2 separate regions of the Homo sapiens genome follow, and region 2 is linked to region 1. The links come from fine-mapping of genetic effects on gene expression. A gene starts in region 1. The other region holds a variant in brackets. All regions are shown on one strand. Distances are between the middles of the regions.

The links.
Region 2: its variant is fine-mapped to the expression of TNIP1 in whole blood (TOPMed, PIP above 0.99).

The regions. Positions count from the first base shown.
Region 1 is chr5:151,078,377-151,083,899 of GRCh38, reverse strand. TNIP1 (TNFAIP3 interacting protein 1) reads left to right here and starts at 2,866. Exons shown (of 18, transcript NM_006058.5): 1 at 2,866-3,020. RefSeq lists enhancers at 120-229, 350-459, 2,272-2,331, 2,046-2,756, cis regulatory regions at 2,297-3,066, 2,566-3,354 and silencers at 2,632-3,301, 4,987-5,036.
Region 2 is chr5:151,050,314-151,055,313 of GRCh38, reverse strand. It overlaps TNIP1 (TNFAIP3 interacting protein 1), which reads left to right. Exons shown (of 18, transcript NM_006058.5): 7 at 3,055-3,149. Among named protein-coding and RNA genes, the nearest start is that of TNIP1, 28 kb to the left of the region's middle. The variant A/G (reference allele first, on the strand shown) is at 2,218.

The sequences.
Region 1 (5,523 bases):
GAGATAGCACACAGCAAATACTCCATACATGTTACCTTTTAATGCTTTTATTATGCAGCCTCCACCCCTCTTCTGGAACTTGCTCTAGAGTTAAGTTGGTTATAGATGGATTTTTCATATGTTTTTTATTACCTTCAAATGTGTATTTGGGTCTGACTCTGTAGCTACCTCAGTAGGGGTGGTGGAGGAGGGAGTAGCAGAAAGGAGATCGAGAAGTTGCGTGCTTTAAAACAAAACCAAATAAAACAAAACAAAACAAAGGCAGTTTGATTCTCCTTCTGGGTGTGGCTTTGTGCGAGTGCTTGTCATTACTCTGGAAGAACAAGAGGTTGCACCTGCCTGAGTCACTCAGCTCCCAGCGTCAGGCCCAGCTTCTTGACTTGGAAATCCCCTTCCAGACCACAGGGTAGCAGGCAGTGCCAGGCTAGGGGGCCTGTCTCCCATTCCTGCCATGCTCCTAGAGGCTAGGGTCTCACAGAGGATGTGTATGGTGGGATGGCGCCTGGTGAGGTTGCATTGCTGAGTTTAAGAGCCAAGTTCTACCCAATGCATGCAGCCCACATCTAGACACCACTATCATTTCTTGAATGCCTACTGTGTGCTGAGCCTTGGGCTTTATTTGCATTGTCCAATTTATCCTCATGATTCACATGAGGAATAGGTATATTATCCCCCATTTTCCAGACAGAAGCCTGAGGCTTAGAGGGGCCACCCAGGTAGTAAGTGGCTGAGCAGGGATTGGAATCCCATTAGCTCAATTCATAGCCTGTGTTTATGACAGTGGTGTTTTCTGCAAGGCAGTGAGAAAAATCATGTCATTGTAAAGACAACTTGGTACAGTGGACCAAGCACACAGGACTGGGAGCCAAGGCCCTGGATTCCAAGGCCCTGGTTGTGTCACTCAATGTGTGTGGCCTAGAGTAAGTCCTTTTCTAGACAGAGGACTCAGTTTACCTATCTGTCAAATAGGGGTTTGTTATCTATGGGCTCCATGGTCTCTAACAGGGTGGAATGTCCTGAAGACAAACCAAGACTTCAAAGAATGGAAGAGGTGGGGGCAGTCACGACTTTATAAATAAATGAGTTTTCTCACAAATTGGAACTGTTAAGAAAAAGGATCCAGAACTAGGAAATCAGACAAAAAGATGACTGAGTGCCATTTTTTTATGTCAAGCTTGAGAATTCCCAGCGGACACTTTGAGAAATGAAACTGTCTGCCCGGCTAAGGCCAGACATGCTATAAAAACAGCTGAAATAGTGTGGAAACAAAATGCAAGTAATTAGAGACCAGCCATTTTTAGGTAGATTTTAGTTTTCAGTGGGTAGAGGGTGGGGGTGGAGAAGATGTGGGTTGGGAATAGGAAGAGAGCCCTGCAGGAAGAGAATTGGGAAGTACAGGCACAAAGAGCAGGAAGAAAACTGGCAGGTGCGGACCTGATGGGTGGAGACGATGCCTGGGAGCTGCTATGTAAACCAGGGCCAGGATTCCCAGTTTCTCTGTAGGATCCCCCAGTGGTGAGACTCAGTGGTGCTTTGGAGTTTGCATCGCTTCCTCCCTCCCTCCCTTCTGAATCAAGGCATAAGTGTAATTCTTTTCATAATTAAACTAGAATGAATATCGTTTTGAAGATCTGATAACACCGTTGAATTAACTGAAGGAACCCTAGGAGGTTACAAAGCCTTATAGGAGAATCCCCAGATTAGGTATATAATTTGGGCAAGTATCTGTGTGTGTATTATTGCGAAGTCACAGTTGATTGATGGGTCTCTCTTCTGTAAAATGAGGGTGTGTATTAAACAGTTCCCCAAATCCTTTCCCCTAATTCTTTTTGAGGATGAGGGCCTGTCAATGACTAAGTTTTCAACAGTACCAGTGAAATGGGTCTTTTGCAATAGGTTTTTCATAAAGCTATATTTAGTTTAAAGAGCTGTTCTTTATTCCAAGGTTAGACCTTCCACTTTTTGGAATTAAAATTTAGCTTTCTTTCTTTTTAAAAATAAAAGGATAAGCTTTTAAAAAGCTTTCCTACCCTTAAAGCAAGTTTATGTTCCTTACCGGTCTAGGAAATCCCAGTCTGTTGGGATTATCTAGCCCACATATAAGTAGGTAGGGTGGAAGGCGGCCTCTGGATTTGCCCACCCGGGTTTGAATCTTGATTCAGCCCCTTACTGAGGTCATCTAACCTTTTTGTGACTCAAATATTATTTAAGAAAAGGTAGTAAAACCCACCTCCCTAGCGTGATTGTGCGAAGAAAATAATGCACGCAAAGCATCTACAATGTCTGGAGCAAAGCGTTTACGATGTCTGGGAATCCTTTACAATGTCTGGAGCAAAAAATGTTCGCGGTAGAGTCTTTATGGGTCTTTTCAGCTCGGAATTTCTATAGCTTTGTTAAGAAGAGTCCTGGAGTGCCCTGGACGGAACTCTGGGGGCCTGAGCTCCAGCTCTGGCTTAGGGCCAAATGCTTACGTGCCTTTTGGCAGGTCCCCTCCCTGTTCTGGCCTGTGTTCCCCTCGGCACAAGGAAGGGGCTGGGTGGTCTCTGTGGCTCGCCTCCGCTCTGAAATTCCGGCTTTCAAGGTGGCCCCAGGCCTTCGACAGGGGCTTCCGGCGCTGGGAGTGCGGCAAGGCGCCGCGCAGGCCCGGGACGGTGGCCCCAGGGAAGTCGCTCCTAGAGGGGAAGGCCGCCGAAGGGACGAGAGACACCGCGGGCCCCCGGAACCGCAGGCAGCCGGTGTTTACCTCGCTCGGTCCCACCCCAGGCGGCCGCGGGCCCGCCCGGAGCGCGCGGCGCGATTGGGCGAGTGGCCTGCCAGTCTCCGGGGACTTTCCCAGGGGTGGGGCGGCCCGGCCAGGCCCCCGGCACTTCCTCGTCCTCGGCCCGGGTGCCCTGCCCCCGTCCAGGAGCCCTAGGAGTGCTACGGGGGGCCGGAGCCTTGCCCGGGCCGCTGCCCCGTCCCTGGATTCGGGGCTGGACGCAGCAAGCGGGGCGCTGTGTCCCCAAGCTCCCCGTCCTCGGGTAAGCCGGCCGGCCCGGAGCGGGGATGGAGGGGAGGAAGGGAGGCCAGGCCCAGATCGTCCAGAGCCTCGGTGGCGGCGGGGAGCGAGCTGGGGAAGGTGGCTTGTGCACCCAGGCCCGGCGCGCGGGGTCCCGGGGCGTCTCCGCCAGCGGCCAAGCCGGGCTGAGCCGCTACTCCCTGCTTGGCGCTGGGCCTGGTGGGGGGCGCGCGTGCGCACTGCGCGGGGTAGCACGCCTGGGAACGGCGTGGGGCGGTTGTAGAGAGCGCAGACCCTCCGGGTGCGGGCGGCGCTGCGGCCCTTTGGGTGTCTATCCTGTGGAGACGAGTTGCCTACGCGGCGTCAGGAGTTTTCGTATCAAGTTGTGGAAGCAGTGTACATATGTCACGAGGAGGAAAATAATAATTTTTATTGGGCGCTTTCCAAGTGCTGATCTTAACGCTGTACGTGTATTAGACTCATTTAATTGTCACTTCCATCCTAAACATTAATATTGTTATTATCTCCATTTTATACTTTAGGAAACCGAGGTACTTGGAGCTTGAGGTCACACAGCTGTGAGTTGCAAAGTCAGATATGAACTCAGGCATTTGGCTCCAGAGTTCCTACTATACTATTTCTGTTGAACATATTTTGTATGCACATTGTTGGAGGCATTTGTGTGCATGTGCAGGATGGATGAGTTTCCAGGAGTGCTTCTGGGGATGGAGTATGAAGGCTGAGCTTTCCACTGTAGGACATTTGTGTGCACGTGTGCATTGTACATTCATTGTGCGTACAGGAGCAGATGGGAATTTTGTGCGACTGGGTGAGAGATTGTGTTTTGGTAGGGGGAGGGAGGGACTTTTGTGGATGATGCAGAAGAATCAGCAACGTCCTTCCCCACCCCCTTGCAGAATGACAGTGCAGGGAAATGTGTAGATTCCTAATGCATCATTTTTTTCTCACAGTACGGTCAAAATGGGATTTAATCAGCACTTACTCATTTTCCAAACAATGGGGTGTGATAGAGGGGAATTCGGCATCTGATGAGAGGTCAGAAAAGGGGACTCAGAATGTTTTAAAAAAATCCTTGACAAAGGAGGGTAGAATTGTATTAGGAGGGTAGAATATTAGTACAAACTCAGCATCCCCGTGGTGGTCTCTGTTTTGCAACAGAAGAAACTGAGGCAGTGAAAAAACTGATAATGCTAATAGCTTACTATGTGCCAGGCACAGTGCTTACATTCCGTATCTCATTTAATCTTTTTTTTTTTTTTGAGACAGAGTCTCACTCTGTTACCCAGGCTGGAGTGCAGTGGCACGATCTCGGCTCACGGCAACTTGCCTCCCAGGTTCAAGCGATTCTCCTACCTCAGCCTCCCGAGTAGCTGGGATTACAGGCACTCGCCACCATCCCCGGCTAATTTTTTTGTATTTTGAGTAGAGACAGTTTCACCATGTTGGCCAGGCTGGTCTCAAACTCCTGACCTCAAGTGATCCGCCCGTCTCAGCCTCCTAAAGTGCTGGGATCACAGGTGTGAGCCGCCCCGCCCGGCCTCACTTAATCTTTCTAACAACTCTTAATTTTCAGATGAGGAAACTGAGGCCCAGAGAAGGTTAAGGCTTTCCCAAGACTAGCAACGCTTGAATCCTGGACCCTGTTCCCTTTCCCCTGACCAAGGCTGCTGTCCTGGCTGTGTCCCGGGAAAATAATGTGATCAGGGACTGGCACTTCATGGAAGCACGTGATCATGCCCCTCTGGAAGCTGCCGCTGGGAGTGTGCAGTGTTCTACACGCTTATGTAACCACGTTTGTCTCCCAGCCTTGGGTGTTCCATGGGTATGGCATGGCACTCATGCTGAAGGTTGATGCCTGCCCCTGGATACCCCCACCAGTTTTTTCGGGGCCCCAGGAAGCTGTGGGGTCTGAGTCATACCCTTACCCCCAGTGCTGCCTGTGACTTGGGGCCCGGATGTCCTGGTTGGGTCAGGCCGACCTGATTTGAGAGAGGCAGCGTTGTAGGAGGTTGTTTGTCTGCCTCTCTCTCCAACCCACTGGTTACTGTTTTACTCCTGTACCCGCTGTGATTTGGTCACACCATGCTGGCCTGCTTTTCCCCCTCCAGCAAGCCAAGCTTGTTCTCATCCTTAGGCTTTCATACATGCTGTTCCCTCTGCCCAGGACATCTTTCCCCGTTTTTCCCATGGCTGGTTTTTCCTTATCGATCAAGTCTCAGCTCAAATGTCAGCTCCTCAGAGGGGCCTTCCCTGATCTTTTTATGCAAAGCAGCCCCTTTTTTCACTTTCTGTCACGTTACTATTTTATTTTTCTCATACGTGTATCATGCTATGAAAGAATCTTATTTGCGAATGAGAAAGCATATGTATAGAACTTAGTGTCTGGCAAATTGTTATTTTTAGTGTTTATTTGTTTACTGTCTTTCTCTTTTCCTAGAATAGAAGGGGGTGAGCAGGGACCTCCTTAGTCCTCTCGAGTGTATTTCTGTAGCGGGAGAAGAGTG
Region 2 (5,000 bases), 28 kb after region 1:
CCCCTCCTTGTTTATTTCCTTCTTAGCTCTTATCATAGTTTGTAATAATTTTATTTAATACATTTTTTCTTATACTCTTTTTTTTCTTATACTCTCTGCTAGAAGGTAAGCTTGAGGGGGGCAGGCACCATGTCTGTTGTATTCACTGTTGCGTCCCAGTTCGTGGCACTTCATACACACTTGGTGAATGAATGAAAGGACAAAATAATAAATGATCAAATGAACTCATAGCTCTCGTAGCACCTTGGATGGAAGGTGATGATCTTTGTGACCTCTGATGATTCTATCCATTGGCCGGTTTGCACCCAGGGCATTGGCCCAGAGACTCCAAGGAAACAGCTCTCTAGACTGCAAGGGTAGGACAGCAAGTGAGGCCTTGTCCTGGCCTTCCCTTAGGGACTAGGAGCAGGCCATTCTGTTCCCTGGAGGCCTCGCCCAGAGACATGGCATCTTGGGTATTTTTACTGCCTGGGTGGAGGTGTATTGATCCAGTTCCTCCTCATTCATTCACTGATGTGTTTCTTGGTTCACTAAACAAACATATTCAAGGTCAGGTATAGCATAAGGCTCTCTGCTAGGCATTGAATGGACTCATAACAATAATTTTTTGATTTCTTTTTTTTAAGGGGTGTTGGGGGACAGGGTCTTGCTCCGCCACCCAGGCTGGAGTGCAGTGGTGCGACCACAGCTCACTACAGCCTTGACCTCCTGGGCTCAGTTCTCCCACCTCAGTTCCCTGAATAGCTGAGACTACATGCATGCGCCCTTATGCCTGGCCAATTTTTTGGTATTTTTAGTAGAGACAGGGTTTTGCCATGTTGCCCAGACTGGTGTTGAACTCCTGGGCTCAAGTGATCCTCCTGCCTCAGCCTCCCAAAGTGCTGGGATTACTGGTGTGAGCCACCATGCCCAGCTGGTTCTCTGTTTGCTAAGCCTCATCTCCCTCATTGTCCAGCCACCTCCAGTTGAAGGCTGTGTCCTCCATTCAGCCTTCCCAAGAGTCTCCTTTGTGAGTCAGAAATGAAACAACTCTGAAATCTCCCTGGGTTACACAACAAAAGTTTTCCCTCCTATTCTGTGTGGCAGGGGTTTGTTTCTGCTCTACACAGTTCCTTAGAGTCCCAGGGAGACAGGGGCCCAACTTTCCGGTGCCCTTTAGAATACGAGGCATCCACATCAGCCCCTGCTACCAGGAAAAAGAGACTGGAGAATTGTGCGTAGGCCAGTCCAGGAGTGATGCTTGTCCCTTCTACACCTCTTTTGTTGGCCAGAACTAGTCACATGGTTGCATCCACCTGCAACAGGCCTGGGAGGTGGAAGGCAGCAGATGGCTGTTTAGTGAATGGCCCTGGTCCTGGCCCAGCTCAAAGGCTGTCCCCTCCTTTGGGCACCATCTCTCTCCCTTCTCTGATCTTTCATCACAGGGGAAAGAGACACCAGTGTGGGGTCTGCCAATTGGAGTTTTACTCCCCGCCAGTGATGAGTCTTAGCAGCTGTGCACCTGTTAGACTGTATCATTTTACCTGGTTTCCCTACCTTTAACATAGAGATGAGTTACTTAGCTTTGAGGAAGTTGTGAGGCACCAGTGAGGCAGTATATGGAGAAACACCGAGCAATGTACCTGGCACAGGTGAGGTGCTCAGTGAGGATCTGTGGAAAGATTGAACAACTCTGTGCTGACACTGTATGCTAGCATTGCTAGTCAGCACCTTCCCTTCCCCCCAGCCTGTGAGGTCCTGAGTCTGGCGACCCCTCTTCCATGCCCCCAGTTCACAGAGCTTCCAATATGAGTCCCCGCACATAAGCAAGTGACTGATGGTTCATGGACACTTCCACTCTCACTGTCTCATCTGTCCCTCTCAGCAGCCCTATAGAGGAGGCAGAGAAGAAACAGTTGTCCCTGGGCTAGGTGTGGTGGCTCATGCCTGTAATCCCAGCACTTTGGGAGACTGAGGCAGGTGGATCACTTGAGGTCAGGAGTTTGATACCAGCCTGGCCAACATGGTGAAACCCCGTCTGTACTGAAAATACAAAAATTAGCCAGGCATGGTGGCACACACCTGTAGTTCCAGCTACTCAGGAGGCTGAGGCAGGAGAATCTCTTGAACCTGGGAGGTGGAGGTTGCAGTGAGCTGAGATCATGCTACTGCAGTCCAGCCTGGGCAACAGAGTGAGACTCTGTCTTAAAAAAAAAAAAAAAAAAAAAAAAAAGAGAA[A/G]CAGTTGTCTTTCTTTTGTAGAGGAGGAACCAAGTGTCACAGCCACATTGTGAGGGCGTGAGGGCATAGTGAGGTCCCGACTGAATGCCTTGTCTTCTGGTTTTCCCCTTGGCAACACTGGGCACCTCTCACACCTGCAAATTGGTGTGCCTTTCAGCCCCCCTAGGACTCGCCTGCTCATTTGTCCATTTGCTCATTTGGCTGTTCAGTCATGTTGTTCCTTCCACAAACTTTGAGCTGGGGGCTGGGGATCTGGCAGTGAACAAGAGGATGGTTAGGGGTCCCAGCCCTCCGGGAGCTCAGGAATTAATTAGGGGTAAGGGGGTAGATATTAAGAAAACAGCAGCACGAACAGTTCTTTAGCTTTATCTGCCACAGGTGCTGAGAAGCGTAAAAGCGGGGGGCTGTGAGCAAGGATAACGGAGTTAGCCTAATGTAGCTGGATCGGGGAGTCAGGGAGGACTTCTCTGAGGAGATGGGATTTAAACTAAGACTTCAAAGAAGGGTAGAAGTCAGCTGGGGGAGGCTGGTGGGGAATAGGGGTCCCGGCAGTGGGAGCAGGGATGAAGGAGAAGGGATGGAGCTGTCTGTCTTGGAGGAGCAGAAGGCCCCATGGCTGATACTTGGTCAGGCTTCTCCGTAGTTGGCTCCCAAGGGAGAGGACACGTGGGTGGCCAAGTGGCTTAGCTCCTTAGAGAGGGATGGGGTGAGGCCAGGCAAAGGGGATAAGGAGTTGGGCCCTGGGGTGGCTACAGGCCCCCCACCATCCTCTAGCTCAGCCTGCACCTGGGAGGGGCCCCTCCTTTCCCTCACCCTGTCTGTTCCCCTGCCCCACAGACCCTGTGTGAGCAGCTTCGGAAGGAGAACGAGGCTCTGAAGGCCAAGTTGGATAAGGGCCTGGAACAGCGGGATCAGGCTGCCGAGAGGCTGCGGTAAGTTCAGGCCCCTCAGAGAAGGGGTGAGGAGTGGGGGCTGCAGGAGGAGGGGCTGGTGTGCAGCACTGATTTCTGGGTTGAGGACCGTGGCTCTGAGGCCCTGTGCCCAGAGCCCTATTTGGAGGTTACGTCTCTTGATCCTTCTCCTTGGCTCTTTTGGTATTTTCTCTCTGGCCCTTTTGCCACCTTGGGAGGTGTATAGAGTGCCTTGAGAGCTTCAGAAGAAGGTCAGCATAGATTGTACTTCCTTCCTCCTCCAGCACTTGCCTCTCTCCCCTGTTAACGGTGAACTGGCTGTCCAGAGGACTCAGGACTTTGCTGCCTCCTGCTGGTCACCATCCCAACCTGCTCTGTCTTCCTGAGAACATGAGAGCTCCCCCACTGGACTAGGGGGCTTAGACTTAACTGAGGGTTGAGGGTCAGGGAAAGGCATTACAAGTTTATACGCCTTCCCTTCCTTCCTTTGCAAGATTCTGAATTGACAGGTCTTAGGCAAGACCTAGGAGCCTGCATTTCACCAGGAGTCTCTGTGATTATGAACGAGGTAGGCACAGGATCACGCCTTGGGAAACACTGATCTTGACTGTCAGAGCTTGACAAGCCCTTGGAGATCATGCAGACAGACCTCTCACTGTGCAGAGGGGAAACTGAGGCCCAGGGAGAGGCAGGGACTTGATTGGAGTCTTACAACAGGAACTTGGGCCTCCTTGCTCTCCATCCTGTGAGTGGCCACAATTCCTGCCTGCACTGTGGTCCTGGACAGTTTGGGTGATGAGTCATCTGGTGGGTACCAGCTGGGCTCAGGCACATAGGAAAGGCCCGTGTCACAGACAGGACTTGCCACTCTGTTTTTCCCTCCTCTCCTGTTTCTTATTAGAATCAACAGAAAGAGAAGGAATATAAACTTTGTAAGTATGGCCACAGAAGTAATGTTTAACTACTGAGCCACTGGCTATTTTGAATCAGTGTGTAATTTATTTGCTTTTGGATGGCCAAGGATGCACTTTTGGGGTTTTTATAGCCCTAGTGACCCCATCCATGGATTCAGAAACTGAAGCTGGGGAAAAAAGTCACGGATTAGAAGGCAAGAATGCAAGTCTCTGCTGTATGACCTTGGGAAAGTCATTTTACTTATTGGTTTTTCAAGCGGAAACTCAGCTGGCAAATAGAACATAAAGAAGTGGTGGTTGGGCGTTGTGGCTCACACCTGTAATCCCAGCACTTTGGGACGTTAAGGCGGGAGGATTGCTTTGAGTCCATGAGTTTGAGACCAGCCTGGTGAAATACATCACCACCCCTCCCCCAGCCCCAACAAAAAATACCAAAAAAATTAGCTGGGTGTGGTGGTGTGCCTGTAGTCCCAGCTACTCAAGAGGGTGGGGGTGTGTGGTGGGGGAGGTTGGGGGTGGCTGAGGTGGGAGGATTACTTGAGTAGGAGCAGTCGAGGCTGTGGTGAGCCGAGATTGGGCCACTGTACTCCAGCCTGGGTGACAGAACGAGACCCTATCTCAAAAAAAAGAAAGAAGAAACATTTTAGTCAGACCTGAATCCACATCACTAATTTTATGATCTCCTCTATCACCTGCCTTATTAGTTACTTAGAATTTTACTTTAATTTGATTCATCTTTTTACTTAAAATTATAAAGGCAACTTTAACTAGAGTAAATGGAAAACAGCATTACCTGTGATAAATAGAAGATAACTCTAAATACAATGAAAGTGAAAGGATGTTAATAAATTCAGGCTAAGGATCATTGCACATTGAAGGCTCTGGGCCTGCAGCCTGCACCTTCTGTGTTAACGAGGGAAACTGGCGAGTAACTAGAGAGGTGCCCAGGGCCTGTTAG